2 separate regions of the Homo sapiens genome follow, and region 2 is linked to region 1. Evidence: fine-mapped expression QTL. A gene starts in region 1. The other region holds a variant in brackets. All regions are shown on one strand. Distances are between the middles of the regions.

Region 1 (15,614 bases):
AAACAAATGAATTCAGAAGTCAGGATGGGGAGTGTGAGGCACCAAGGGGAGAGAGATCTGTGCAAGATTCTGCGGTGAGCTGGGGCCTGGCTGGGGTGCAGAACATCGTGTGTGCAGAAGGTTGATAGTGGGTCCAGGGCAGAAGGCTGCCCAGCGCAGGCCCACTGGGATCCTGCCCAGGGGCTGGGAATCCTTTCCCCTCCCACCCTCTCTCAGAGAAAGGCTTTGGCCCGAGGGAAGAAAGTTCATTTTTTCTTCCTTTGCACCATGGCTATGCTGTGCACACCCACAGAGCACACCCACGGAGGCTGTGGTTCCGCTGCTGCCTGCCTTCTCCAGAGTCTGGGGAGTGGGGGAAGCTTCCTTGGGGCCTTCTCCTCCGGATTCCAGTGGCTTGGTGTGGGTGGGGTGGGAGGAGGGTGCTTGAGGAACAGGAGGGAAGACTTGGCATTTCCATTACCCCCCTTGCCTCCAAGTATCCCCTACCACTGACACACATACACATCAGCTGGCACCTAGGAGCACACACCTGAACCCAAAGTCAGATTCCACAGAGTACTCCCGCCACAGCCCCTGCAGCCCAGCACTCAAACCCACTGGCACTTCCCCCAAGTCTCCCCATGCAGCCCTCCAGCTCTCCCTCCAGAGAGGTACCCTAGGGTTGGAGCAGCCCACACACCAGGGAGCCACCCTTCCCCTCCAGCAGACAGACCAGCAGGTCTTCTCTAGCAACATGAGGGTGCTAGGGCAGACATCAGCATGAACTTCCCAGATATCCAGGTTGTAAAACACGAGGGCAAGTTGAAATTCTAGTTCATCATTTTCACAAGGCCCCCCGGCTGTGTCCCAGACCTTCTCCATACCTGGAGACCCCTGTGATCCTGGGCCTGGTACCTGAAGCTGAGGACTCAGTTCCAGTGCCCACCCTAGCACAACTATTAATAAATGTCAGAAGCTGGCAGGAATCCCCGCTCCACTGGCCTAGAGTGGAGGTGTAAGAGGCCCTGCATGGGGCCCACCTGAGGGCTTAGATTCAGTACCCCAGCCCTTGACCCAAATTCCACCGCTTACTCAGAAATCCCAGCCTTCTCCCTGCCCCCTACTGCCCTGGGATGCCTGCCCAGTACCCACGGGCCCTGAGGGGCTGCCCTGGGAACTGGCTGTGTTTCCGGCCCCAAGGCCTCACCATTACTGCTGCCCAGGCCTGCCCAGTGGCCTGGCCGCCTGCCTAGCCACTGTGGCCAAGATGGCCACAGCCTGTGCCCACAGAAGCCTGCAGGCAGAGGCAGGGCCCAGGCATGTGAAGGTGGTGGGGTGGGCAGAGCCTGAGGGTGAGACTCACCTCCCTGGGGAGGCTCCTCCCCTGCCAATTTCTGCCTCTGCCCACTGCAGGCTGCTGGGCATCAGGGGAGGAGCTCCCCTGGCATGTCTCTGCTAGGGGAGCTCATGGTCTGGGGGAGATGGACATGAACAGCCCAGCTGCCTATTTCTAGTACTGGGCACAGAAATGGGCACTCTGCTTCCAACATTTTAATTTATCTTCAGAGCAGCCCCAAGGCCTGGAGATTTTACAGATGAAGAAACTGAGGCTGAGAGAGGGCTGGCACTTGCTCCAGGTCACACAGCCAGTCAGCATGGGGGCTGCATGCTAGTTCTTCCCACTCTGAAGCCTCTGCAGTAGACAGTGTGGAGTTGGGGGGCTTACAGGAAGCAGAGGATGCCTCTGGTTAGGGGCAGGGATCTGGGAGCCTCCCTGGAGGACAATTTGCAGGAGGACCATTTGCATGGGACCTCATCAAATGGCTAGAGCTTAATGGAAAGGCATTCCAAGGCAAAGCACAACCTGAGCAGAGGCTTGGTGGGGAGGCTTCGATGGGCAGTGGCAGGGGGAGTGTAGGTGGGTGGCAGAAGTGCCCTCGTGCCCAGGGCCTCTCATATCACTGGAGGACTTGGGGTGGAGGGTGCTGGGTGCTCAGCCTCTGCCGGTCCAACTGGCCCAACCACTTCTCTCTGGCACTGCCCACTGTCCCTGCTCACAGCTCTGCCAAGAGTTGTTGGCAAACCCTGGGTGAAGTCTGGGTCAGGGGCCTAGGATTCCTCCAATCCCTGTCCCAGGGCAAGGATTAGGGAGTCCTGAGCCCCAGGCTGCTCTGCTCAGTCTTGGAAGGCCTCACGCAACCCCCTTCACAAAGCCTGCCCGATTGTGTCCTCAAGGGACAATTTATAGCATGCAATGACAGTGCGGAGGGCAGGTCTGTCTGGGGAGATGAAACGACCTGTGCGATTACAGGAGATTCCTACTTTCCTCGGTAAACTTGTCTCTGTCTTCCTTGCTTTAATAGAAAATGTATTACTTTTTTTTTTTTTTTAAATCAGAACAGCCAATGTGTGTGGCTACTTTTCCAGGTTTCGGTGACTCTCCCTCTTCCCCTCTCATCCCATATCCAGCCCCCAGTCCTCAAGGTCTTCTCAGAGGTTCCCACTAGGAGGCCGGCTGCAGTGCCCTGGACGACCCTCACACCCAGGACCTCAGTTGCTCCATCCAAGGAATGGGCGAGCTCAGGTCTTCCTGACTTTCCTGGAGAACAAAGAGGGTGAGGAGGCGAAAGGGCCTCCCGGCGCCTGGAGCCAGGTGGCTGCCGGACCCGGGAATAGAGCCGGGTGTTTTATAGCGGGGTTTGCGTCACGCGGCTGGGCGGGCGTCTGCGCCCCCGGCTCGGAAAGGCTTCCCTGAGGCGGGGCGGGGCGGGGCGGGGCGGGAGGGTGGGGCCCGGGGGACTTTGTGCTGGTGCACGGGGGTCGCGCCGACTGGCGTGTACGTGGTTGTGCGGTGGGTATGGAGGTGTGTGCACGGCGCGGGGGACCCTGCTGTGCCTGCAGTCAGTCCTTCCCAGCCTGCCAACCTCGAGCAGCCGCCTTTCAGCTCAGGGCCACCCCCTACACTGTTTCCCATGGGCCAAGCTGGGTTTGGTGAGCTGTCCTCTGAGGATGTGGGGGATGAGGGGCTGAGAGGTGGGAGCGGGGAGCTGAGGCACCCTCAGGCCAGGGAGCGAAAGGAAAGGCAGGTGAGGCTTATAGCCCTCCCTGCCCTGCTAAGCCCCATGAGCCTCCCAGTAGGGACCCCGTAGATTAGAGCTAAATGGGTGCCGGGGATGGGGGCGGTGGAGGAGAGCTGGGAGGTCCCCTGGACTCCGTGCGAGGGGATAGCTCTTGCTGATGACTGTCCCAACACCAGTGCCCCTTCTCCCCACCTACACACATGTTTGGGGGCAGGGGCAGAGGAGCCAGGGAAGGGGACTCAGGCTGGCAGGGGCTGTGCCATGGTCAGTGCAGAGAAGGGACAGTCCAGGGTACACACCCCTGGGAGAGCCACAGGAAAGCCCTGTGTTCTGCACTCCCAGGACACACCTTCCCCTTGTCTACCCCCAAGTATGTCTCAGGTTTCACCCAAACACAAATGTGTTGAGGAAGGAACATGGAGGCAATTAGCCCAGCCTCACCAACTCTCTGCCTGGCAGGTAACACCAACATGGGATGAACTTGAACTCTTCCATCCTCTCAGCCTCAGGAGGTCGATCTTAACCAAACACCACTCCACAGATGAGGAAGCTGAGGCACATTTAAGTTGCAGTGCAGGGCAGAGCCAGGATGCGAACCAGCCCCTGGGCTGGCACTTCCCTGCTGTGCAGCACTACCCACAAGGCCACTGTCCCCCTCAGCCTGTCCTTGCTTGTCCTTAACCTAGTACCTGAGGCTGACACTCCTGTCGATGACAGTCTTGGTGGCCTGAGGCATGGGCATGTCCCAAGTGTCCTTCCTACTACACTGTCCCCAGTGGGAACCTCCCAGGCTCTGCTGCCCCCAGCAATTGCCCAGGTGCACTGTCGCTGTTGACTGTGTCTCCTGCTCCAGAAACACAAGCCCACTCTCTCTTGGCCAGGCCAGTGCTCTGGGTGTGATGGGGATTGCCGTGGCAACCAAAGCTTCAGGGACAAGGATGGTGACACAGAGAGACAGAAACAGAGAGAAGGTGCAAAAAGCAGAAATGCCAGGACAAGGACCAACTCTTGGCAGGGATCAAGTGAGGGACCCCATTTGCCTTCAGCTGTGTGGGCCTCAGGGACAGAGGGAGGCCTTTTCCAGGTTGCTTGGCCGAGTCTTGGACTTCAGGAGTGGAGGAGTCTGGAGGCCTCCCAGGGTTGATGGCCTTTGGAGGAGGCAGAGGTGGCAGGGGTCAAGTTGCTTCTCCTCTGGATAAATCCTCCAGGAGGCCCACAGAAGGAACAGCCCTGGGTGGATGCTGTGGGTGGGAGTCTGGAAGCTGCCTGGCACCACCCTAGCCCATCTCCTTGGCTGCAAACCTGGAGGAGGAGGAAAGTATCACCTCTAGGCAGCTGCTATGAGTCTAGCCCTGCTCAGGGATTTACGCCCCATGTCAGGAGAGGCCATTGAAGCCTCTTTCAAGGCTGACAGCCTGTGACTTGGCACATGACCAGGCTGTAACCCTGGGCAATGTGTCTAGCCTGGCCGAGGCTCTGTATATATCATCTCATTTAACTCTTACCACCTCATTCAACTCCTGACATGAGTCTGTCATCAGCCCTTTTCATAGGTGAGAACTCTGAAGCTGGGAGAGGCATGGTCACCTACTCAGGGTCATACAGTTGGCATGTGACACAGCCAAGGTTTGCTCTCAGGCTTCAGCAGGCCCTTCTTGTTGATGCAAGGCAGATTATGGGGACACAGATACCAGCTCATCTGGACCCTGCCCTGGCCCACCAGTGTGGCACCCAGAAGCAGCTCCAAGATGCAGGGTGGTTCTAGTCAAGCTTGGCCTGGATTCTCTGGACCTCATGCAAACCTATTCTCCCTGGAACCCTTGGACCTAAGGCCTGGAGGGAAGCCCACCTTCATCCCTTCTCTGCCCTCGCCACAGCATAGCTAGCACAGCCTTAGCCCCTCTGACCCTCTCTGAGTACATCGCACTTCCCCTTTCTCTAGAGGAGAAAGATTGGCTGAAGCCAGTGTATGCTTGCAGCCCCTGAGCTCACAAGTCTGCATATCCTGAGGATCAGGAAAGTGCTTCCTGTTGTCTAATGTAAATCTTGTTCCTGTAACACCAGTATATGTCAAAGCAGTGATTCTCAACAAGGGGTAATTTTGCCCTGCAGCAGACATTTGGCAATGTTTGGAGACATTTTTGTCTGTCACAAGTTAAAGCAGGGAGGTACTATTGGCATCCACTAGGCAGAGGCCAGGGATGCTGCTCAACATCCTTACAGTGCACAGGGCAGCCCCCACAGCAAAGAATCATCTGTCCCAAAGGTCAGTGGTGCTGAAATTGAGATCCCTGATGTAAACTATGGGCTTTGGAGCCAGACAGACCTCGGTCTGAATCTGCGTCTGCCACTGACTAGCTGTGTACTCTGGGGCAAGTCGCTTCTCCTTTCTCTGAGCCTCAGTTTGCTCATCACCAAAACTGGCACTAACAGCAGCCCTCACCTCTTGAGAACTGTTCAGACTGCCCACATCCAGCACCCAGCACACAGCCTGGTGCTGGGTAGCCCCTATCAGCGATAGCCATGATTATTCATTTCCTTCTTCCATGGTGAACCACACGGAGTGGGAACAAAGGTCTGGTGGCTGGACCTGGAGCTCCTCAAGGGTCAGTCCTCCCTCTGGCTGCAGTCCCTGGCACAGGGTGGGCCTATTGTTTATGTTGAGGGAGAGACTGGGTTGGCTTACTGTGGACCTGAAGGAGGAGCCAGAAGGAAACCCGATCCCAAGTGGGCAAAGGTCACTTGAGGCTCACCTTGTTTACCCTTTCCTCCAGTCCAACCCCAGGGAAGCCATGGGGCATGATGGGTGGGGTGGGATGGGATCAGGACACAGAACATGCTAATGAATATGGTCCTTCACTCAGGGAAGTGCCGTGCATTACAACTGGGCATCAGGGAGGAGGGACATTTGAATGGACACAACCAGGGCAGGTAGAGGTTTGGGGGTGGGGTGGGAAATGGCATTCAGGCCCAGAGAACAGCATGCTCAAGGCCTGGGTGTGAAGAGAAAGTCTTTCCCAAAGGATAGTCCTTGAACCCACCTGGTCTGGCCTTTTCTCCCCATCCATCTTCCGCAATCTCAACCAGGGTCCTCCCACCTGAACAACGTGGCAGCCCTTCTGTCCCCCATCCAGCCTCTCCTCTGCCCTGCTGTCCCTCTGCCCCATCTATCCCGCAGGAGCCCCCTTGAGCCTGTCATCCTGCCTGGTTGTAATAGCTTTCACCACCTTCTCATTGCTCTGTGAGAAGACCAAAGTCCAATGGCCTGTCTCTGTCACAAGCCCCTTTCTCAGCTCAGGCCACCTCAGGGATTGTCCCCCACTTCCATCCCTTGTGTCTCAGCTGGGAAGAGCTGTCTAGACTTTCTCTATCCCTTCTAGGTGGTTCCCCAGGACCTGGAACCCTCTTTTTTGTCTCCTGGGAAGTGACATTTCTTTGGATGAGTATAAGGCTAATGTCTTGGCTTTCTGAGCTCTGGGGACAGGGGAATGGACTCCCTAGAACCCCAACTGGTCCCTAGACTTTGAGCCTAGGGGACACTCGGTGAATAGATGAATGAGTGAATGAATGAATGAAGGAGTTATGGCTGACAACCAAGTTCCATGTCTGGAAAGGAGGCTCAGGCGCCTGCCAGGAGCAATAGAGAGGTCTCAAAGGTGGGGGCAGGAAAGCAGAAGACTGCCAATCGGGGTAGGGGCAACTGCCAGTCCGAGTAGGGGCAGTTCCCAGAACCGCCTGAGGAGCAGTGCAGCGCCCGACCAGCGAGAACCTCCGACCCTGGAGTCTAACCAGCTCAGTCTTTGGGGCAGAGCCGGGACAGCGGGCTTGGCGGCGGGCACCGCGCCCGGCCGCGTCCGAGCTCCAGCCAACAGGAAGAGCAGGAGTGGGGCCAGGAGAGGCGGGCCAGCTGGCCAGTGGGGAGTCCCGGGCGTGGGTGTGGGGAGCGGGGGAACCCCCGCCGGCCCCTCCCAGGCCCCAGCGGGCGGAGGGAGCCTCCCCACCGGGCCTCAGCGTCCTCCTCTGTAAAATGGGCCCCTTCTGAGGGCTGGCTGCGCGCTAATGGCGGGAGGATGCGAAGAGGGCCAGGCAGGGCAGAGGGACCGGGAGACTCGGTGTCCCGCGCAGGCAGAGGCGGAGGGACGCTGTCCCCGATTGCAGCTGGCGGGGCGAGGCCTGGCAGGGCGAGGCCTGGCGGGGGCGGGGCCTGGCGGGGGCGGGGCCGGCGGCACCTGGGTGAGGTCGCTCGGCCCCGCCCCCTCGCACTTCCGTGTGCCGCGGCGCCGGAGCCCGAGGCGGCTGTAGCCCACATCTCCCGAGCGACCCCCGGCGCCCGCCCGCCGCGCGGAGGCCCGGGCCACACCTCACTGGCCGCTTGGCCCATCCCAGTCAGCGCCGCGCCGAACCCCGTCCGCGCGCGCCGGGGAGCGGCGCCCCCGCCGCTGCCGCCGCGACCCTTGGCGCCTGCCCCTGCAACGGGAGGTAAGTGAGGGCCGGGTCCGGGCGCGGGATCGGGGCTACCCCGAGGGCGCGGCGCCCTTCCTTCCCCCTTCCCGCCCCAGTTCCCGTTTCCGAAACTGAGAAACTGAGCCGCGGTCAGCGAAAGTCCCGCCGCGCCGAGACCTGCCGGTGACTCCGTCCCCCTGTCCGTCTGTGTGTCCCTCCGCTAGACAGTGGGGGCTGAGGTCCTTCTGTCTGCCCGCTCCCGGCCCCTCCACCCGCCCGTGTGTCTCCCGCTCCTCCGAGGGGCCCGTCCGTCCCTCCCGACTCTCTCCCGGGCCCTGTGTCCGTCCGTCTGTCGCCACCCACTCTGTGTTCTCCCCCTGCGCGCCTCTCCGAGACCCGATCCTTCTGTCCCTCGCCACCCGATCCGTCCGTCCCTTGCCCTCCGCGTGCTCCATCGCCCCACCCCCACCCACACCCCTACCCCCGCCCGCCGCCCCCTCGATCCCGTCCTCCCGGAGCCGCGCCCCCGGCCCACGCTCGCCGCCCCCTGCCAGTCCAGCCGCCTCTCCGCTCTACCGCGGGGCCCAGGCCAGGCCGCCCGCCGGGCCTCGCCTCCCGCCCCTGGGTCCCTGGAGGCCCGACCCGCGCGGCGCCTCCTCCTCGCTGTCTCTTCTTTCGGTCTCAAGAGTCTTTCTCGGTCCCTTCATCCGTCTCTGGGCTGGGCGTGGCTCCAGTCTCCACCATCCCCCTTCCCACCCCACCCCTCCGCCCCTCTGAGACCCCTCCCAGGGTGGCCCCTGCCCGATACGGTCTGTACTCGCCCCCAACCCAGATGCCACTCCCGTTGTGGGGGCTCCACCAGATGAGGGGAGGAGGTCGGGGGGGGGGGTCCTCCTGGCTGGTGGTGGAGCGGCAGAAGGAGAGCACCATCGGAACTGCTCCCACTTCCCCAGTTCCCTCTCTCTTGGGGCAGGGGAGAGCCCCACCGAGCCCCGCCTTAAACCTGGTCAGAAGGATCTGCTGTGAGTGGGCGGGGGGTCCCCTTCTCTGACGCCTACCCTGTATGCGTGGAAGCTGTCTCCTTGTGCTAAGTCACTGGTATCTGGGTGTGTGGGTATGTTGTGTGTCTGTGTCAGCTTCTGTGCTGTCTGTCACTGTGGGACTTGCCTGTGCATGTGTGTCCTTTTTCGCATGTGTGACTTGCTTGTGTGTATGTGTGTATGTCTGTTTGTGTCCTGAGGCTCTGTGTGTGTCTTTTGCAACTGTGTGTACCATTCTTGGTGTGTTTGTTGTCACCAGACTCGTGTGTGTGTGTGTGTGTGTGTGTGTCCTTGCCTGCTAGTGTGTGTGTCCCTGTGTGTCTGGAGGTTTCGGTGTTGCACACTGGGTATATCATGGTGACCAACTGGCCATGAGTACGTTAGATCTGTTAATTGTGGAAGCCCCTGGTGTTGGGTGCCTACCCACCAGTCTCATGTGTGAGTGTATCTGTATAAGTGTGTGTATGTGTGTGTACTCACGTGTGGCTCTCCCTCTGCCACTGAGTTTCTGTGACCAGGCCCACCTGGTCACTAAGGGAGGGGACTGATCCCTGGGGTTTCCTCGTTCCTGCTGTGGAGTGAGCTGGGGCTTGGTGAGCAGGCCAGCAGAGGGAGGCTGTATGGTGCATGTGTGATATGTGTGGTTGTGTGTGTGCGTGTGTGTGTGACAGAGAGGTGTGGTGGTGTCTGGGCAGCTGTACCTGGCTGATGGGTGGTGTGAGGGCTATGCGATGGGACAGTGCTGGGGTAAGCCTGGGAGTGTGTGGCCACGGTAGGAGTGTGTGACTGGTGGGACACAGTCTATGAAACTGCCGGTGTATGCTTGGGGAGTGACTGTGATTGTGGGGAACCGAGAGTGCCTGGGCGTGGGTGTTAGCGGCAGGAGGGGGTGTGACAAGGTGTGTGGTGACAGTGCTGGGAGGGAAGGTGAGAGCCCAGTGTGGGGGTGTGTGTGTGAGTGTGTGGGAGACCATGAGGATGTGGGTGTGCACATGGAGAGGGCTAGAGGGCAAGTCTTGGGGTTTGTAGTGTTGTGACCAAGACCTCGGGCTCTGTACCCAAGAATTATTTGGGCTCCAATACTTGCTTGTGCCTGTTAAGAGCAAGAGACCCAAGCTAGGCCTCTCAAGGCTGAGTGTCCTTATCTGCAGAATGGAGAGAGTGAGGACAAAAGTTCCTGTGTTAAAGGTCCTTTAACACAATCTTGGCCCATAGTGAGAACACAGCACATGTGAAGTCTTTTGTTGTCACCACCCCCAGCTATACGGTTCCCATTCTCCTGGGAGCTGGGGCTAAAGAAAGCCCAGACAGTATCCAACCCAATTTCCTGCCTGTCTGTTGCCCCTTCCCATCTCCTTGACCAAGCAGCTTGAGGGAGGGGGGATGCCCAGACAGAGCCCCCAGTACCCAGCCCTGTTCAGCCTGCATGACAGCCCCTCCCTCACCAGACCTTAGTGTCAGTAGTAGCGATGGGGGAGACAGGGGTGGGGGATGATTCAGAGCTGTGACTGCAGGGCGCTGACACCATTTAGCTGGCACAGTTTAGATTAAAATTAGAAATAATTTAAAGTACAGACAAAAAGATAAAGCCAAGGATGCCTCTGCCCCCAGGGAATGGTGATGGGGGTCTCCAGCTGGGGGAGGGGTTCACATCTGGGGAGCAGAATCTTTCTTAGAGGCTTGAGCTGGCCTTCAGAGAAAATGCTTAGGCCTTTCAGCCAGGAGACACAGAGTACCTTGCTACCTTTGCCATTTCTTCCTCCCAGGATATCTCCAGGCCTCAGTTTTTTCAGCTGTGTAATGGGCACAATAGTAATGTGAGAATCACCTGAACTGTAAGGCACAAGAGATTAAAAAATGTCACTCTTCAGTCTGGGCACGGTGGCTCACACCTGTAATCCCAGCATTTTGGGAAGCCGAGGCAGGTGGATCACTTGGTCAGGAATTTGAGACCAGCCTGGCCAACATGGTGAAACCCTGTCTGTACCAAAACTACAAAAATTAGCTGGGTGTGGTGGCGCGCACCTGTAATCTCAGCTGCTCAGGAGGCTGAGGCACGAGAATCACTTGAGACCAGGAGGCAGAGGTTGCAGTGAGCCAAGATCGTGCCATTGCACTCCAGCCTGGGCGATAGAGTGAGACCCTGCCACATTAAAAAAAAAAAAAAGTCACTATTCATTTGGCATTCTCAACATGAGTCCAGCACAGGAGCTGGCACGCCACATCATTGGAACCTCAGAACCACCTGGGGAGAAGAGGCTAGTAGTTTCCCCATTAAAAAAACTGAGGCTCAGGGAAATTGCACCAGGACATAAAGTGGTGGTACTTTGTTGCACCCTAGGACTCCTAAACCTGCAAGGCAACCTCCCACAGACAGGAGGGTCAGGAACAGGTTTTTGCTGTGTTATTGGCTTCCTCACCAGGCTGGAAATGTGCTCAGGGCAGGGACACAGTGTTCCAGCCCCTACCATGGAGTGGACAAATAGTGGTGCCCAGGAAAAGTTGGGCCCAACACCACATTTCAAGGAAGGGAAAGCCACATCCAGAGAGACCCGAGGTTTTAGGTCCAGGAGAGACTGAACTGGGCCCGTCAGCCATGCTGGGACTGGTAGACGGGGAGAGCCTGTTTGGCGGTGCCTCCCGGCTCAGCTGTTTCCTCCTGTTCCTACAGGTCTGCAGGGAACTGGCCAGGCAAGGGGGCAGGCCCGTTTCTCCTGGTGGTTGGTGCGTTGTAGCAGCAGCGGGAGCCAGGACTAAGGACAAGCAGGAGCTGGGAGCCCCAGGTAGGACTGAGTTCTCTTAGGCAGATGGATGGTGCACCGGTGTAGCCTTCCTCTCTGGCCTCTTTGTCCTTTGCTGTGGAACTGGATGGGGTTGGGCATGCATGCAGAGTCCTTGATCTGGTTGTGGGCCCTGTGTGCCCAGGGGCCGCAGCTGTTTGCCCTGTCTATGAGGGGCTCTCTGCTCATGAGGAACTTCCTGCCTAACCTGGCTGTGGCCCCAGAATGCTCTCACCTTGGAGCTCAGAGGCCTGGGGCCTACCATTAATTTGGGGCAAAAAGTAGTAACGCTTTTTTGGTCAGTTAGAGAGGGTGGCTCATGGGCCAAAGATTGAGGGTGGGTGTGTCAGCTTTTCCATGGCCCTGTATCTGCCTCAAACTCACCTCATCATCACACAAGGACACTGAAATTCCCCGTGGGCCCCACAGTGGGTTGGACACTGCAGGGGGATGGAATGGGGTCTCCAGCTCCAGGTACAGCTGAGCTGTCTTCCACACCCCAGGCCCCTCCATTTTCCCCAGCTTCTCTGGAGCCCGAGCAGGGCTCAGTCCCTCTCTTCAGCTTCCAGATTCAAGGGGAGCTAGGCAGAGTCTGGAACAATGCTGGGAAGGCTGCAGTCTCTTTGAATCCCCTCAGAAAGCTAGAAATTCCTTGTTTTGGGGCGAGCCTTGCCTCCTTCAGCCCTATTACCATGAAAACATTGCTGTGGGTGACTCCATACTCATTCCAGGCTGGTGACTGGGTGACCGGGCCCCAGTGAACAGGGTACTGGTGGTGGGTATGGGTGCTAATGAAGCTGGAGCCTCGGAGTAACAGTGGGGGGATAGCAAAGACCGTCTTTCCTCCAGGAGTGCTCCCTGAGCAGACCCTCACAGCCAACCCTACTGGCTGTTACGCACCTATAGGTCTGTGAGTAGAGCCATAAAGGCTGGGCTTCCTGGGCCTGACTCTGGGTTGGGGGCAGAAGGGAGGTCAGGGCCTTCACTCTGGGGTAGGAGTTGGGACAGAACAGGAGCAGTCTTCACTGGGCCTTCTGTGTATTGGACCTGTCCCTAAACCTGGTGTGGAGGAAGTAAAGCGCCTTTGGCTGTCTAGGGGCCTCTGCCACCTAAGTTCTGAAGAGCCAGCCCTTTCCGTCACTCAGCCTTGTTTTGTAAGGAGTTTGATTAGTCTTGGAGACAGCCCACTGTAAACCCTCAGACATCACCCTCCAGCTGCACAGACATATGCGTGCTCACACAGGGATATGGCAAGCTAGGCTGCAGTGGGCATGCACACCCACAGACTCATGAGTTCCTGTACGTGCACCACACATGTGGGCATGCAGGTACACAGGTGCTCACATGCAGCCACCCATGGCACACTCACACACACACAGATGCTCTCCCAGTTACCGTTGGCATCCATGCACTCAAATGCCTGCCCACACATACCGCACTGTGCCCATTCTGGGGTCAGGAAGGGGTCCCTGGTCAGAGTTACAGCCCAGTCAGGTCGCCTGCATCTGGCACCTGAGGGGCAAGTTCCAGGTGTGGCTGTGATCTCAGTAAGGGGGGCTGGGCCACCCTGGTAGGTGGGCTCTGCCCATGCATTCAGCAGCCACCCTGCCCACCTGGCCCCAGGCTCCAGGCCGACCAGGGATTGGCATGGGAGATGGGAGGCATGAATGCGGGGGAGAGGCTGTGTCAGCTGTGCCAGCACTGTGTGCCTGCTGCTACAGCAGAGGAAGTAGGCTGTCTGGCCATGGGGCCAAGGTGCTCACAGTGGGTGGGGGTCCTATCAACTCCTGTGTCCCCCACGGTGTCCATGCCTAGAGGGAGTGGAGTTGCTGGGCTCTAGGGACTGAGAGGTTGGCAGGGGCTGTCTGTTCACTTCCCAAAGCCTGGGCCTAGGAGAGAGGCCCATCTGTTCAAGGCGTTTCCGGAGGCTTACTTCCTCTGAGCTGCCCAGGAAGTGGTTTTGGAGTGGGACTGACCAGCCCTCTGTCAGTGGCTCTACGCCTTGCTCCGCCCCTGCCTTGCCTGCCCAGGGGAGCAGCGTCTGGCCACCGGGTTAGGCTGACTGACCAGGCTTTTCACTGCCAGGGCTGCCCAGGCCTTTTTGGGGGGCTCTAGGAGAAGGGCAGGGGGCAGGTCACGAAGTCCCCTGCAGTCCCCACAACCGTGGCTCCTTTCTTGCTCTGAGCCTGTAAGCCGAGGCTCAAGAGCATCAACTCTGGTAGGCATGGCCCCCTTGAGAGAGGTGATGGCTGGGCTGCATCTTAGTGACTAGGCAGCTCCCAGCAGCTCTATGAATGAACCTGGGCAAGTGGCTCTGCCGCTCAGTGCCTCAGTCTCCCCCTGACAGATGAGATAATGATAGCATCCATCTTGATGAGGTTGTGCGGAAATGACAGATAACATATGCAAAGTAGCTGGCATCGTGCTTAGTGCATTGTCAGAGTTGAATGAGTAGAAACTGTAGTTATGTAAAGCATTTAGAGCCCAGTTCATGGGAACTATTCAAAAAATAGCAAGTGGGACTGATGAGGGGGTATTATTATCTGATGGGCTGGGCACTGGCCCAGTGTTACATGGCCAGGTGGCTGTGGAGCCTGGCTGAGGAGCCAGGTCTCTGACTCCCTCATCCCCCTCAATTCTACCTCCAGTGGCAGTGCCCTACTTGTTCAGTAGGTTCCATGCCCTCCGAGGAGAGGAGCTCCTGTTGGAGCAGCTCCACCCACTCAGCAGTCCAGCCCCTGCCTGCTCTTCTCCCCCTCACTCCCTTTCAAAGGGAGAAAATAGATCTCGTGACAAATGGATGCAGGGAGGGGAAAGGCAGTCTGCAGCTGCCTGCTGCCCCCTCAGGGCTCCCCTTGGCCCTCTCCAGCTCTGGCCTCCTGCAGGACATTAGGCTGGGAGAATTGGCTGGGAACGAGGGGGTGGACGTAAGCCCTCCTGCCAGCCTGCTTACCCTTCAGACCCCTGGAGTCAGCCTGTGGGCTGGGGCAGGGAGTGGGCATCTGGGACTGATGGAAGCTAGAAGAGTAGGGGGAGCTAGAAAACCCCCTACACCCATGGCAGCTGGGGGCAGGGCCCAGCCTGTCCCAGGGACACGAAGAAGGTCAGCACAGTTAGGGTTGGGCTAAGCATTGGCCTTCACTGTGTGGGGCCCAGAGGCTGGGGATGAGGAGTGTTGAGGAGTGGTAAGGACAGTGATGCAAACAGCAGGGGCCTGAGGGCTGGAGAGCGAAAGGTGGATGGGCCTGGGCGGGAAGTGTGGTTGAGGGTATCCTGAAGGCTTAGGAGCAGGACTTCTGCAGGCATCAGACAGACCCTGGTTGAATCCTTGCTCAATATTTACTGGCTGTGCACACTTGAGCCAGGGACTGGACCGTTCCCCACTTGCCTCGTCTGTGAAATGGGCAGATCACGGGGTGTGGTGTCCTGTGAGACATGAACGATGGGAAGGAGCCACTGTGTGGGGTGGGGTGGAGCAGGAAGACGGAACAGCAAGCCCAGAGGCTCCTAAGCGGGAAGGAACTGGCTGCTTCGGGAACTGAAAGGGGTCAGCGTGGCTGGGGCACAGGAATGAGGGAAAGGCAGCGCCTGCCCGAGAGGTCAGGGAGGTAACGGTGATGGGGAGGGGGGTGGCGGGGGGCAGGCTGCATGGAGCAGGCTGAGGGGAGGAGTCTGGGCTTGTCAGAGGGGCAATGGGAGGCACTGGGGGCTTGGGCAGGGGGTGACAAAATCTGTCTGAAAAGCCCCGTCTGGTGGCTGGAACAGGGGGACTGTCGGGCCGGGGTAGAGGATGGAGAGCAGTCAGAAGACAGGTGCAGAGCCTGGGGATGGTGGTGGTGGGAGAAGAGGATTTGAGACTTGAGGACAGGCTGCAGCGGCAGACGGGATGGCCTTATTGTGTGGGGAGCAGGGGGAGCTGTCTGGCCTGAGCCACTGCCTGAGCTCGTGCACTCCTAGTGGATGAGGAGCGCTGGGAGGGGAACGGCGGGGGACTGGTGTGGGCAGGCTTGAGCTCTTCTGGAGTCATTCATGTGGTGAAGCCAGGGAGGCAGGTGGGGCCACAAGCCTGAAGTTCAGGAGGGTCTGGGCCCAAAGTAGAGACGGGAGCCTAAAGCCAGGATTGGGGAGGAGAGGGCTCAACAGGCCTTCTAAGGGGTGGGGGAGCATTTGAGAGGCCCACGAACAGGACTGGGATGGCTGTCCCTCAAAGGTCTCTGCCAAGGCACCCAGGAGGGCAGGCTTGTGGTGGCTGAGCCGCTGTTTTCACAACAGCTCCGGAAGCTTTGGATCAT
Region 2 (15,614 bases), 34 kb after region 1:
GTGGGCAGATCACCCGAGGTCAGGAGTTCGAGACCAGCCTGACCAACATGGTGAAACCCTGTCTCTACTAAAAAATACAAAAGTTAGCTGGGCATGGTGGTGGATGCCTGTAATCTCAGCTACTCAGGAGGCTGAGGCAGGAGAATTGCTTGAACCCGGGAGGCGGAGGTTGCAGTGAGCTGAGATCATGCCACTGCACTCCAGCCTGTGTGACAGAATGAGACTGTGTCTCAAAAAAAAAAAAAAAAAAAAAAAAAAAGGTGGGAGCGAGCTGCATGCTGCCATATGCTTGTCCACGCCTAGAATTGCTCTAAGGAGAGCCTCATGATTGAGCTCAGTGGAAGGTAGACTTTGTACTGTTTGCCATTTCTAGTTCCCATATGCATTAAGTATATACTCAAATGACTAATTACTAAATATAGACATGGTCTCTGCCTGTGGGAAGTAGACAAACCTGAACCTGGGGGTCACTTCTGCTGCTGACTGCTAGGGGACCCTGGGCGAGTGACATCACCTGTTTGAGCCCCATTTGGGCTTCAGGAAGTAGGGCAGTGTATGCCCAGCGTTTAGCACACAGTAGGGGACTTGCAAGAAGCACCTGTTTTTAGGATCTCTTTCTCCTTCTGCTTCCTTTTCTGTTTCTCATTCCCTTGTACCCTTGGGGACAGTCCTGGACTAATACGGCTGAAAATTAGGACATGGGGGGCAGGGTTGGAAGGAGAAGAAATGTCCCCTGCTGACTCTTACCTGTCCCCTGTCCTTAGGGACCTCAAACTGGACAATGTGCTGCTGGACCGGGATGGCCACATCAAGATTGCCGACTTTGGGATGTGCAAAGAGAACATATTCGGGGAGAGCCGGGCCAGCACCTTCTGCGGCACCCCTGACTATATCGCCCCTGAGGTGAGCCGATACCCTTCCAGCCCCCCGCTCAGTCAGGCACCTTGCCTCCCCACGGTGGGCCAGGGAAGGATTCCCAAGGGCAGTGATGTCCAAGCCAAAGCCCATAGGCTGAGGCGGCCTGGCTAGGCTTCGTGCCCAGGGGCCCCTCTCAGCCTCAGCACCTCAGCTCCTGCTGACCTGCTGCTCTCCCCACCGCCAGATCCTACAGGGCCTGAAGTACACATTCTCTGTGGACTGGTGGTCTTTCGGGGTCCTTCTGTACGAGATGCTCATTGGCCAGTCCCCCTTCCATGGTGATGATGAGGATGAACTCTTCGAGTCCATCCGTGTGGACACGCCACATTATCCCCGCTGGATCACCAAGGAGTCCAAGGACATCCTGGAGAAGGTGGAGGCCCTGGGCTGGGCTGGGCTGGTCTGGGCTGGGCTGGGGCAGGGGCTGGCAGACACTGGGCTTTGGGTGAGGAGCTTCCTGTCTCTGGAATGGCAGCCTCAGTGGTGCTGCAGTCCTAACATACGGGGTATTGCTCTCTCACCATGTTCCCAGGAACTCCTGTCTGAGTCCTGTGCATAGAATCAGCCTGACATGGTGACTAAGGGCCCAGGGTCAGGAGACAGACCCGAGGCCAAATGCTGGCTCTGCCTGGGACTAGCTGGTCACTTAACCTCTCAGAGTTTGTCTCCTTATCTGTAAAATGGGGCTATGAGCAGACTTGACTCACAGAGTTGTTGGGAAGAAAATAGAAACATATGATGCTCAGCTGTGGGCCAGGCAGATAGTAAATAATAAAAAGTTCCACCAGCAGAGTCGCAGATGTCCAGCCCAGAGCCTGTCATCTCCGGGGGAGCTGGGAGCACTGCAGGCCAGAGTGGCCTCCCTCAGCCCCACCGTTCCCCAGGCTGACTGGGGCTGGGGCAAGCCTGGCTTTGCATCCCTGGGCCTGCTGGGGATTTGCTGAAGCTCCAATTTCCCATGGCCCTTGGGTGCTAACCAGGGTCCCTGCTGGGTTGCAGCTCTTTGAAAGGGAACCAACCAAGAGGCTGGGAGTGACCGGAAACATCAAAATCCACCCCTTCTTCAAGACCATAAACTGGACTCTGCTGGAAAAGCGGAGGTTGGAGCCACCTTTCAGGCCCAAAGTGGTATGTGATCCTGCCCTGTGCTGCCTTCAGGCTGAGCTACTCCTCTCCTGCCCTCCCTCTCTCCTGCATCATTCACACGCTTTCCACCTCTCCCTTCTTCCAGCAATCTCCATAGCATGTTCAGTCACAGCCGCTGCCCTTGTATTCTCATCCTCTCCCTCCTGACTCAGTCATTCAGCACACACTGGGGACTGTGGATCCCACTGTATGCAGAGGACCCTGTTTTGGGAAATAGAGTTAAGACCTCACTTTATCGCTCCATTCAATCCATTTTCCAATACATATGGGGAATCCTGAGTCCCTGTTGAATGCAGAGCACAGTGCTGGGCTGCACAGCAAAGTGGGAGATGCAGTCCCAGAACCGGAGGAGCTCTCAGCTAGTTGGAGAGATAAGAAACTTGCACACCTATGACAATTTGTGATACGAGATGACAGTATAAGAGATGCCCCAGGACACATGATCCGTTGCTATTGAGTGGGTCTGTCAGCAGGAACCCAGGTGGCAGAGAAGAGGGTGGGTCTGAGAGGCCCCGTTGGAAGAAGTGAGACAAGGGACAGCTGGGAGGCATTCCAGGTGGAAGAGGGGCTGGTTCACTCACAGGCCCAGAATCTACAGGGCTACCAAGGAACCAGCCTGAGAGCAGAGGCAGGTGGGGCCACTAAGAAATTTGGGGCTGTGTGGCCCCTCTGTGACCACAGTTCTTCCTTCCCACTCCCCTTCTGTCCTTTGATTCCCCTCCTCCACCAGGGCACACAGTTCCCACTGGGCAGCCTGTGTAATGCGCCCCACATTTGTGCTTTGAGGCTACAGAGCACTTCCCCTACACCAGGGACCTCAAACTCAGACGTGTCCTGGCTGAGCATGTAACTGACAGGCTAGGCCAGCTGCAAGAAAATCACACAGCCTGCTTTCAGTCTCACTTTTGATAGATTTCCTTCTCCGCACTAAGAAACACAAAGCAGGTGTGATGTACCCCTTGTCAGTGGGGCAGGGGCTGTCCAGGGGGCTCTTAGCACCAAGAGTGGGCAGGAAGTGGGCCCAGGGCTGCTTTAATCTGCCAGTTTTCAAAAGAAGCTGGAAATCTGGATTTTTAGGTTGCATTGCTCAATTTTAAAATATAAGTTCAGGCCGGGCACAGTGGCCCACACCAGCACTTTGGGAGGCTGAGGCAGGCAGATCACCTGAGGTCAGGAGTTCGAGACCAGCCTGGCCAACATGGTGAAACCCCGTCTCTACTACAAAAAATACAAAAAAAATTAGCCGGGTACGGTGGTGCACACCTGTAATCCCAGCTACTCAGGAGGCTGAGGCAGGAGAATCGCTTGAACCCAGGAGGTGGAGGTTGCAGTGAGCCGAGATCGTGCCACTGCACTCCAGCCTGGGCAAGAGAGTGAGACTCCATCTCTAAATGAATAAATAAATAAAAATAAATAAATAAAATATAGGTTCAAATTCCATTAAAACCCAGTACAAGCCGAAATGATTGTACTTGCCAGTTCAGTTTGGCTGAAGGGCCACCAGCTTGCGGTCTTTCTATATTACCATCCCATCATATCCTCAGGAGCAGAGAATCAGCAAATTTCTCCTGTAAACAGCCTGATAGTATATATTTTAGGCTTTTCAGGCTTGATGGTCTCAAAGCAGGCATAGACAGTATGTCAACAAATGGGCATGGTTGTGTATTACAAAAGCTTTATTTATGGAAAGTGAAATTTGAATTTCACCTAATTTTCATGTCATGAAATATTTTTCTTTTGATTTTTTTTCCAACCATTTAAAAATGTGAAAGCCATTCTTAGCTTGTGGTCCCCACAAAAACAGGTGGTAAGTGAGCCTCCCTGGGCTGTGATTCGGTGGTCTCTGAGCAAGAGGCTACCACCTCTCCTAACCCAGGCCCAGAGCTCCCTGGTCACTTTCCTCATCCTCTTGGGGAAATGGCAGCCTCCTTCCCATGGGGCTCCTTTCAGGCTGCTAGGGGAGGCTCTGTCTTCTGTTCTGGGTGAGGACAGCTCTGGCCTGGCCCAGCCCTGCAGGGACTCCAGCCTGGGGTGTCTGGAGGGCCATTCCCTAGGTCCTGTTCGCTCACCCCTGCCCTCTGCTTGTAGAAGTCACCCAGAGACTACAGTAACTTTGACCAGGAGTTCCTGAACGAGAAGGCGCGCCTCTCCTACAGCGACAAGAACCTCATCGACTCCATGGACCAGTCTGCATTCGCTGGCTTCTCCTTTGTGAACCCCAAATTCGAGCACCTCCTGGAAGATTGAGGTTCCTGGACAGATCAGGCTAGCCCTGCCCTCCACCCACACCTGCCCGCTCCCCACGATAAGCACCAGTGGGACTGTGGTGACTTCTGCTGCTGGCCCCGCCCCTGCCCCCAGAGCGTCCTTGGCTGCCGTCTGGCCGGGCTCTCATGGTACTTCCTCTGTGAACTGTGTGTGAATCTGCTTTTCCTCTGCCTTCGGAGGGAAATTGTAAATCCTGTGTTTCATTACTTGAATGTAGTTATCTATTGAAAATATATATTATATACATAGACATATATATATATATAATAGGCTGTATATATTGCTCAGTAGAGAAAAACCATGGGGGACTGGTGATATGTTGATCTTTTTCAAAAAAATATATATATGACAAAAAAAAAAAAAAAGGAGCACAAGCTGTTTGAACCACCAGGTTTATTTGTGTGTCTAAATAAACACCAAATAGTACCAACCTGGTTGTCAGGACACGTTTGTCCCAGGAAGCTGGTGGTGGCCACTCCCACTTTTGGCAGCACTGGCCCGGAAGCCAACTGCTGGGCCTTCATGCAAATGTGTTTGTATTTATGGGTTTCCTCTGGCCCCAGGACCCTGGGCCTAAGGCAGACAGCTTTTCTGGGTGGCGACAGGGAGCCCCAGATGTCTCTGTGGGGTGATGGGACCAGCTGTAGCTGTCTCTGGAAGGGCAGAGAAGTAGAAGACATGAGCAGAGGCTTTGAGGCTGGCTCCAGATGAGGGAGGAGGACAAGGGAGAGGAAGAAAATACAGCTCAGGCTTCAAGCATATCTGGATTTAAATCACAGAGTAGCCAAAGGATGTGGGCACGTCACTTGATCATTTTAAGCCTCAGTATTGGGTGGGCGTGGTGGCTCACACCTATAATCCTAGCCCTTTGGGAGGCTGAGGTGGGAGGTCTGTGTGAGCCCAGGAGTTTGAGACCAACCTGGACAACATAGCGAGACCCTGTCTCTTTAAAAAAAAAAAAAGAAGAAGAAGAAGAAAAAGAAGGAGAAAAAGGCTCAGTTTCCTCTAAAATGGGGACAAGGCAAGGAGACCATAGCTGTAACTCCTCATCTCATTACCATTTATCCCTGCCTTTGCCGCAGAGGAGTCTGTGTCTAAATTCTAGAATCTATATCATAGCAGCTTTTGCCTACCTGGGGAAGGAGAGACAGGCAGGGTGGGAGAGAAAGGTGGAAAAATGCTGAGTGACTGGGCCAAGGTTGACAGACATGCTCCAGTGTGCCTGTCGTGCAGGTGAGGAATGGCTCCAGGAGACCAGGAGGTGCCGGCATCCCCCCAAGAGTGCACAGCTGGAGACAGTGTGTCTGCTCTGCCCTCCTCCCCACCGTTTCCATGTCTCCCCCTCTCCTGGCTTTTCATTGCTTCCGCCTCCCTCGCTACCTCTCCCTCTTTCTGTTCCCGCCCTGCTGTCTGGGACACCGGTCTCAGGCAGAGCCTGCTCTTCAGCCCCTCTGGTCCAGCCCTGGCCCTCTGTCCCTAGAGGGGGGCGAGGCACTCCTAGCACCGGATTGGCTGGCCTGGGCAGCCAAGCAACTGACTTCCAGCAAGTTCATTTTTCTGGGCTGAGGTACAAGTTTCCACAACCGGAGAGGGTGGGATGGTATGGGGCTGGTGCTGGCCCAGGGAGGGGGCTGCAGGGATGGGGGCCAAACTCTCCCCAAAGAGACCAAATGTCCCCTTCTCCTCCCCACCTCCTATCTTCTCAAGGAACCTTCCTCTTGAATTCCTGCTCTGCCTTGGGCCAGCCTGGGTGTCCAGGACAGCAGGGAAAACCTCAGAAAGTGCTTGTCCTGTGGGATCACACGTGGAGGAACTGGCAGCATGGCATAGGCTCTGTTCTGGGACACTGGGGCTGTAGGAGCCCAGAGGAGGTGCCTGGAGACCCCCTGTTCCCTGCCTCTGCCACAACACACACATTCCCCAAGAACCCTCATGGAGCCATTCAGAGGGAGGTTAGAACAAAAACGTGGTTGGTGTCTGAACTCAGAGCCTCCCAGCGTCCTCCTGAAGCACCAAAGCGGAGCCTTGTAACTCGAGCCGTTTCCTCCCGTGTGGAACCGGGGAATAGGTTGTTTATCAGCCAGAGGCAGTGGAGGGTGGTGGGAAGAACATGGTGCCTGGAATCAGAAGCCTGGGGTTTGAATTCCACTCCGCTACCTACATACCAGGCACTCGATGAGTTCCTTCATGGGCCTCAGTTTCCTCATCTGTAAAACCAGACCATTAATCCTGCTGCCTCATGGAACTGACTCTGGCAGGCCCTTGTAGGACTGTTGGTCCACTACTCAGTGGTGCCAGGCAGAGCCCAGGAAAGGACAGGGGCTGGGCCCGTGAGGTCCACCTCAAGCAGCCCAGGACAGGAAGCAGCTGCTGGGGACACTGCCAAACTGCCTGGGAGGCTACACCATTCCAGGCCCATTCCCAGCCATTGGGTGGGTGCCAGGCTTGACCCAGCAGCCTCAGGAAATGCCTCTTAAGGCTGGGCCCTGAACCACACTTTCACTAGGACCTGGGGACCCTGAAGCAGGCAGACTGCCCTCTGCCTCCCACCTGCCAAGTAGGTATTTGAGCAGCAGCCAGCCTACCCCCGACCCTGCAAGGGCCAAACAGAGCTGGGTGCCCCATCAGTGCTGGGCCGAGCAGCATGGATACAGGAGGGCCTGGAGGCAGGAGCATGAGCTCGGCTACTAGACAGCCCTGGGTTCGAACTGTGCATGTCCCTGGTTGTGTGACCTCAGTAAATGACTTAACCTCCCAGTGCCCTAAATTCCTCTACTGTAAAATGGGGATTACCATGATGGCTGCCGTGGACTGTGATGATGTCTCTAAGTGCAGGGCATGAGCTCAGCGTGCACTAGGTGCATAGGAAACAGCAGCCACTATGACCCCGTGCCCGGGTGGGATGAAACATGCTCAGGAGAGCAGGCCTGTCCACTGCACACTGCACTTCGAGTGCAAGTCCTCTAACTGGACCGCAGGTGGGCGGTTAAATGCACCCGCCTCATGACCCAGTGGTGCCTTTCAGGCAGAGCTACCTGGGAACTTCACCCAAGGGCCCCAGAAGGCTTGCCAGGAAGCCCACCACTGCATGGATTAATGGAAAAACTGGAAGCAAGCAGAAGGCCCAGCAGCCGGGGAACTGGTTAAATACTCTCCTGGCGTGGAAAGTGGTGCAGGGCCAAGTGATCGGCAAAAAGAGACATTGAGAGAATCAAAGATGCAGCCAGATTCTACCCTGTGGTTCCACAGGCCAGCTCGTGAGGGCATCCAAGGTCTCAGGCACAGCAAAGAGCTGCAGAGATGAAGGATGGATGGAAGGATGGATGGATGAATGAATGGATGAATGAATGAATGAATGAATGAATGGACTGCCGAGACCCCAAGTCCCTTTAAGGCAGTGGCTCCCAAATTCAGCGTGTGTTGGTACCATGTCAAGTTCTAACCAGCGGGTCTCAGCCCTGGCTGTCACTGGAAGCCGATGCCAGGCTGCCCTGGTCTACTTACTCGGTGATCTGTGGAGGGCCGGGCATCAGTACTTTGAAAGCTGCCCCTGCGGTCCCACCTGCGCAGAGCCAGTTGGGGAATCTGCATTTTGCCCAGTCATCCTGGTGAAGCCAGAAAATGCTACTCTGAACAGGCCACACCCTGGAAGGCGAAGTCACCTGCCTGTATGGCCCAGTCTTGGCCCGCAGAGGCCCGAGCATCCCCTCCACAACCTGCGCCCCGCCTGCGCAAGGACCACGGGCGGAGGGTTGGTGGCTAGGGAAGAACGGTGCGGAAAGCACGCGGCCCCAGCTGGGCTACAGCGCCCTCTGGCGGCCAGAAGGCTCGCGGGCGCTGAGGCCGCAGACCCCAGGAGGGGAGGACCCCCGTGGAAGGGAGCGCCGGCTTTCTCACTTCGTGTCACTACTCCCTGGGGAAATATTTCAATAAAGAGGTACTGGGTGACCATTTTGGAGAGGTTCAGAGACGTGGAGGTTACAGCTAGACAGCCCCCTGGTATTTTTAGGATCTCCGGACCGCCCTAAATTCAACCATTCCAACGTCACAGCCACATTCCCCCATTTATTATTAATTTATTTAGAGACAGGGTCTTGACCTGTCACCCAGGCTGGGGTGCAGTGGTGCCATCACAGCTCACTGCAGCCTCGACCTCCTGGGCTTGTCAAGCAATCCTCCCACCCTCAGCCTCCCGAGTAGCTAGGACCACAGGCATGTACCACCCTGCCTGGCTAATTTTGTATTTTTGGTAGAGTTGGGGTTTCACCATGTTACCCAGACTGGTCTCAAATTCCTGAGCTCAAGCAATCCTCCCACCTCGACCTCCCAAAGTGCTGTGATTACGGGCGTGAGCCACCGTGCCCATGAGCTCACCATGCACCTGCCCCTTCCTCGGCCTCCCTCAAAGCTGGATGGGATCTTCAGCTCCCCCCTGCACCCTGACTGTGCCCAGCACGTGATCCCGGACGACTGTGGTGTCAGAGGCTGGGGAGCTGGTTGTGGTTTCCTGAGTGCTGACCATCCTCCCAGGCACTTTATCTCCTTAGGCTGGGGCAGGGGGAGATACATGCAGCTGAAAATACAAGACCTGGCAGCAAAGGAAAGGAATGGGGACAAAGGCCCCCAAAGGTGAGAGCCAGGCCTGAGTCAGCACAGCCCAGATCAGGCCAGACATGTGAGGTTTGGGGCACTCCTTGAGTCTGGTCGTCAGATTGAATCAGCCCTTCACATAGCCTCAGTGATTTAAGTCTTCAGAACTTGAACGCCAGTTCCTAAATCAGGCTTCTTAAGTGGGGCTTAGAAGATTGATATGGTTTGGCTGTGTCCTTACCTAAATCTCATCCTGAACTGTAGTTCCCATAATCCCCTGGTATCGTGGGAGAGACCCAGTGGGAGGTAATTGAATCATGGGGGCGGTTACCTCCATGCTGTTCTCATGACAGTGAGTTCTCACGAGATTGGATGGTTTTATAAGGGACATTCCCCGCCCCCCCCAACTTCACTCTGCACTTCTCCTTGCTGCCGCCACGTGGAGGACGTGTTTGCTTCACCTTCTGCCATGATTGTAAGTTTCCTGAGGCCTCCCCAGCCATGCAGAACTGTGAGTCAATTAAAACTCCTTTATAAATTATCCAGTCTCAGGTATGTCTTTATTTTATTTTATTTTTTATTTATTTATTTTTTTGAGATGGAGTCTCACTCTGTCACCAAGGCTAGAGTGCGATGGCGCGATCTTGGCTCAC[T/C]GCAACCTCCACCTCCCAGGTTCAAGTGATTCTCCTGCCTCAGCCTCCTGAGTAGCTGGGATTACAGGCATCTGCCACCACGCCTGGCTAATTTTTGTATTTTTGTAGAGATGGGGTTTCACCATGTTGGCCAGGCTGGTCTTGAACTCCTGACCTCAGGTGATCCTACAGCTGTGGCCTCCCAAAGTGCTGGGATTACAGGCGTGAGCCACCGTGCCCGGCCTTATTTATTTATTTAGAGACAGAGTCTTGCTCTGTCTCCCAGGCTGGAGTGCAGTGGTGCAATTTTGGCTCACTGCAACCTCCGCCTCCCAGGTTCAAGCCATTCTCCTGCCTCAGCCTCCTAAGTAGCTGAGATTACAGGCACCTGCCAGCACGTCTGGCTAATTTTTGTATTTTTAGTAGAGATGGGGTTTCACTATGTTGGCCAGGCTGGTCTCGAATTCCTGACCTGAGGTGATCTGCCTGCCTCGGCCTCCCAAAGTGCTGGGATTACAGGCATGAGCCACTGAACCTGGCCGATATGTCTTTATTAGCAGTGTGAGAACAGACTAATACAAAGACTCCTAATTTCTTCTCTGTCTCTGTCCTGAAATACATAACTCTGAAAGCCCTGACATTTGCTGCTCAGCCCACATTAAGTACTGGATAAAGCTCAGAGCTTTGGGGAAGGTACTTTTCCTTTTTCTTCTTAGGAGAGGGGAGTTTAGCTTTCTATCAGTTTCACCTGGGGTGGTAGATGCAGGAGCTGTGAGTAGGGTGGGCAGTGCTGCGCTCTGTTCCCAAATTTGTATATTCCTTCATGGAACAGGTGGCTGCTGTGTGCCAGGACCTTGACGAGCATCACTCAACAGGCATGACTGTGCCTGGCACTCATGGTGTGTGGCCTGAGAGCCCATGTCAGAACACCCTGGGACAAGCACTGTGCTTGATGCTTTTCCTGCATGGTTGCCTGCAGTTCGTCGTCACAACAGCCCCGTGAGGAAACGGCTGGGACTCTCTCCTTTTACCGGTGAGCAAACCCAGGCTCTGAGAGGTTGAGTGATGTGGCCTACAGCTCTGGAATGGGGGCTCCTTCCATCTGCGAGTTGGTTCCCTTGTCATGTTTCCTGTAGAGACAACAGGACATTCTCCCTTCTTTTCCTGGGCTTGCTCAGGAACTGTCAGAGAACACGAGGGCTCCCTACCCTGGTCCTGTCCTCAGAGGGTCCAATAAGAGAGAAGTGAGCCAGTGGCAGGCAGGGACAGCAGAGGGCAGCAACGATGGGCACAGGCAGGCTGACTTGGAGCTGGAAGGACCCTTGGAGATTATGGGTCTGTAGTGAGGATATCCATGGATTCACAGTGGGGAAGCTGAGGCCAGAGAGGAGAAGGGGTTGGGCCAGGGTTGCACAGGAAGGTAGTGGCAGGGATGCAGGGAGACCCTCAAAGAGAACAGCCAGCTGGTCCCCAACATGCTACCTCCTAGAGGGCAGAATCCTGACTCAGTGTCCTTTGCACCCACTGCAAGCCCACAGTGAGCCCAGCACGTGGTGTGTGGCCAGTCAGTGTTGAGGAATGAGCACAGGTGAGTGAATACCGAGTGTCCACTGAGTGCTCGCTTCACCCCAGCACAGCCTGCCTCTCATTCTCTTTTCCCCTCCCCTGCTCTGGTATGAGGAGGGACAAGGATAAGAAGTAGGTAAAGTTAGGAGTGGCCTCTAGTGCTGCCTGTGGCACTAACGGTGGCAGATAACCAAAGCCCAAGGCCTTAGAGTTCATGTCCTCCAGCAGGTGGGTGGTGGAGGCCAGCCGCCCCAGCCGAGGGTGGGGACCCGGCTCAAGAGCAGGGCAGTGGCTGGGCATGGTGGTTCATGCCTGTAATCTCAGCACTTTGGGAGGCTGAGGCGGGCAGATCACTTGAGGTCAGGAGTTTGAGACCAGCCTGGCCAATATGGCAAAACCCCATCTCTACTAAAAATACAAAAAAAAAAAAAATTAGCCAGGCATGGTGGCAGGCGCCTGTAATCCCAGCTACTTGGGAGGCTGAGGCAGGAGAATCCCTTGAACCCAGGAGGCAGAGATTGCAGTGAGCCAAGATCGTGCCACTGCACTCCAGCCTGGGCGACAGAGTGAGACTCTGTCTCAAAAAAGGCAGCAGCAGGAGGACCCAGCCCATTAGGCAGCCCACTGCCATCAGTAGCATTGGCAAGACCTCTCCAAGCCACTTTCTGTGTTGTAAATCATGAGTTGAGAAACAGTTAAGCCAATTTAGACACACTTTGCATGAATAATATGTTAAAAATAATATGCTTCACAAAATATTTGCATTGAATCAAAAATGAATTTTGTTAGCTTAATTGTTCTTGAATACCCTGTCCGGAAAAAAAGGTATGTTTTGAAAAAAAAGTCTTTAAACCTAGCTCACGTTTGTCAATTGCTTGATATCAAATGCCCCTGTTTATAATGGACCCATATGCATACTCTGCCTGGCATGTGCCAGGAGGTGGCAGTGCTGATGGCCAAACCATGGGACGAGGGCTCAGAGTCAGATCTGGGTCTACACCTGCCTGCCCCATCCCAGTTGTGTGGCCCTGAGCAGGCTGTTCAGCCTCTCTTAGCCTCAGTTTCCTCATCTGCAGCATGTGCATAATAGTATATGGTTGTTAAGAGGTCAATGCATGGAAAACTCATACTGCAGCCAAGCACCCAGAAATGTAAGAATGTGATTCTTAACTCCATGAACATTTTGCATGTCATCATACATGATCTCTTCATAACAATGCTGTAAGCATAAGGAATTCTGTGGGAAGGGGACACACTTTTCCTAGCATGGGAGTGGGGTACAGAGCCCTGAGTCATGAGTCAGCAGTGGGCTCCAGTCCCTGAAACAGGGGCCTTCACTCTTCCTCTCACTGTGGGCTTTGGGCCAGCAGCCAGCTCCACAGCAGAAAATGTGTCTAAGATTGGTAGGAATAGCAAGTGAGCCTCATGTGAGTTTAAATTGCGAGAAAGAAAATTTGAACGTCAAATACCCCAGTTCTCAGCACAAATTAAAATCAAACCCTAGGAAAGGCGGTAATTACCACTGTCACAAAATTCCATGGAAAGTTGCAGCAGCAGTAGAAAGAACAGCTGACACCTGCGACATGGCCCCCTTCTCTCCCCCCATTTGGTTTTACAGCCCATGCTGAGCTCCCTGCCTCCACCCTCATGATCCTCCCCAGCCTATTCCAGAGGCTCAGCTGCAGAGCCACCTGGAGACCCCCAAATGTAGCCCCTACTGGTAGCGTCTGGGGCATGAATGTGCAGGTTGAGCTGATGTTTCTTGAGCATCTACTAAGGGCAGATCTGGTACTGGAGGCTTTAGTGCATTAGTGGTCTTGACCTTGAAATGAAGGCTGGACTCATTAATTCACTCTGTGATGGCATGTTGGGGGCTCTGCAGGATGGTGGGAAGCTGACGCAATCAAGGAACAGAACTCATGCCCTCAGTTGGGAGGCAGGTGCGTAAAGACGATCACAGTACGTGGTGGTGTGGGGACGAGGGGTGCCCACAAAGGCTGTGGGCATACAGAGGCGCTGGCTCTTCCTGGGTGGGCTGTGGCAACCAGGGAAGGTCTCCTGGAAGCGGGTGAAGTAGGATGTGGGACTCGGACACTGGACCAAATTGAGGACTAGCTAAAACAGGGAGGGGGCAAGCAGTTTTCTGTAATATGCAACCGCGGGTGTGCCATGTCAGTTTACTGTTGCCACGGCAACACCCAGATGTTACCACCCTTTTCCATGGCAATGACCCAACGACCTGGAAGTTACCACTCATTTTCCTAAAGCTTTCTGCATAATCCACCCCTTAATTTGCATATAATTAAAAGTGGGTATAAATTTGACTGCAGAACTGCCTCTGCGTGGCTACTCACGGCACAGTGCCTGTGGGGTAGCCCTGCCCTGCAAGGAGCAGTGCCTCTGCTGCTGCTGCATGCTGCTGCACGCTGCCGCTTCCATAGAAATAGCTGTCCTCCAGGTGCGGTGGCTCACACCTGTAATCCCAGCACTTTGGGAGGCTGAGGTGGGTGGATCACCTGAGCTCAGGAGTTCAAGACCAGCCTGCCAATATGGTGAAACCCCGTCTCTATTAAAAATACAAAAACACAAAAATTAGCCAGGCGTGGTGGTGGGCACCTGTAATCCCAGCTACTTGGGAGGCTGAGGCAGGAGAACCATTTGAACCCAGAAGGCAGAGGTTGCAGTGAGCCAAGATTGTGCCACTACACTCCAGCCTGGGCAACAAAGGGAGACTCTGTCTCAACAAAAGAAATTGCTGCCTAACACCACTGCTTGGCCTTGGATTCTTTTCTGGGTAAAGCCAAGAACCCTCCGAGGCTAAGCCCCAGTTTTGAGGCTCATCTGCCCTGTATCAGGAGGAACATGTAATCCTGAGACCCAAAGAATGAGTAGCTCTCACAGTCAGTCTGGCAAAACTTTTCAAGTCTGATAATACCCAGTGCTGGTGGTAGGTGTAGGTGTTGGGCAGGGCGGGGTTATGGGGGAGGCACTATTCGCAGCAGTGGGAATGTAAGTTGGCCCCATTCTCCTGGAAAGTCATTTGGCACTCTGTGGGCACTGAAGACCAGCAGTGTCTCTGCTGGGGACAGCCTTGGTGGCCTCAAGAGTCACACAGATGAGGATGCTCGTTGTCTATTTTAGTCTCTGTGCTTGTCTCTGTGTTCCAAATGATCCATAATTTTTTAAAGTGTCTTTTAAAGAATATGTAGGTGTTCTGACTCTTGATCTGATGGCTGGTTACCCAGGCGTCCTTTTATAATAATTTGTTATACTGTTCTTTTGTTCTATGTGCTTTTCTTTATGGATATGACATTTCACAGTTTTTAAAAATTAGAAAGAATGAGTAGGCGAGACGCTGGGGTCAGGCAGTCTCAGGCAGAGGAAGCAGCCTGAGCAAAGCCCGGGGAGCTGGGCAAAGGCAGGGGTGTGCATGACCCTGGGAATCCTGGCCCAACAACCAGGCACCCTGGCCCAAGGACATGCGGTCCCCTGAGGAACAGCATCTCTGCTCCCACCTCTGGCTAGCCATTGGTGCAGCACCTGCACTGCCGAGGCCAGGCCTAATTTAGTCCCACTTCAGCCTGTGTGAGGCTGGATCAAAAGTGAGCTCTCAGTGAGGGGGAACCAGTAGAGGTGAGATGATGGGTTTAATAAAGTAGTTTAACCACCGCCACTGGGTGTGCTAAGAGGCGGTTGCTGTGGCCAGCAGGTGGAGGTTATAATGAGCCTGGCAGTTGTTGTTGGAGGCGGCAGGCAGTGGCTGTGCTGATGGGAGAATTCGTGGCAGTGGCAGCTTGACAACCTGTCTGGGGAGAGAGGGCGGAGCAGCGGCCACCGGTGGAGGCACGGGGGCAGCTGTGCCCACAGGGGTACTACTGATGGCTCCCCAACCAGCTCCACAGCCTTTTCCGGGGGCTTTTAGAAGGTTGGAGGAGATGGAGTACAGGCAGGGGTGGCAGGAAAGTTGTTTTTTCAGTGGAAGCCAAAGACAAACTTCAAGAGAAGAGGAAAAGTTGTTTGTTAAACTCTCTAGTGGTTTTCTGCATTGGCGATGGGAAGTCAAACCAAAGCACTGGGCTTTTGGCCTCAGCGGGGTGCTGCACCTGCAGGGTACGGAAGGGCACCTGGCATGAGGGAAAATGAGTGATTTATCTAACAAGTTGTCTTATTAGGAAAACATGGTGGCTCACTCCTCTAATCCTAGCACTTTGTGAGTTGTGATATGATTTCCAGGTGGGAGAATCACTTGAGCCCAGGAGTTCGAGATCAGCCTAGGCAACATAGTGAGACTCTATCTCTTAAAAAATTAGCCAGGCATGGTGGTCCACCTGTGGTCCCAGCTGCTTGGGAAGCTGAGGCGGGAGGATCGCTCGAGCCTGGGAGGTCAAGGTTGTAATGAGCTGTGATTGCGCCACTGCACTCTAGCCTGGGTGACAGAGTGAGACCCTCTCAAAAAAAAAAAAAAAAAAAAAAAGGCTGGGTGCGGTGGCTCAT

What was found.
Region 2: its variant is fine-mapped to the expression of PRKCD in whole blood (INTERVAL, PIP above 0.99).

Annotation. Positions count from the first base shown.
Region 1 is chr3:53,153,891-53,169,504 of GRCh38, forward strand. PRKCD (protein kinase C delta) reads left to right here and starts at 7,319. Exons shown (of 19, transcript NM_006254.4): 1 at 7,319-7,538; 2 at 11,214-11,325. RefSeq lists enhancers at 2,590-3,090, 5,087-5,166, 13,519-13,628, 13,639-13,708, 13,824-14,504 and 1 more and silencers at 6,821-7,770, 8,041-8,270.
Region 2 is chr3:53,187,956-53,203,569 of GRCh38, forward strand. PRKCD (protein kinase C delta) reads left to right here. Exons shown (of 19, transcript NM_006254.4): 16 at 765-903; 17 at 1,103-1,291; 18 at 1,918-2,046; 19 at 4,153-4,762. The coding sequence ends at 4,311. Among named protein-coding and RNA genes, the nearest start is that of PRKCD, 35 kb to the left of the region's middle. RefSeq lists enhancers at 268-387, 528-607, 3,014-3,143, 4,091-4,350, 6,218-6,512 and 1 more and a silencer at 8,106-8,155. The variant T/C (reference allele first, on the strand shown) is at 9,576.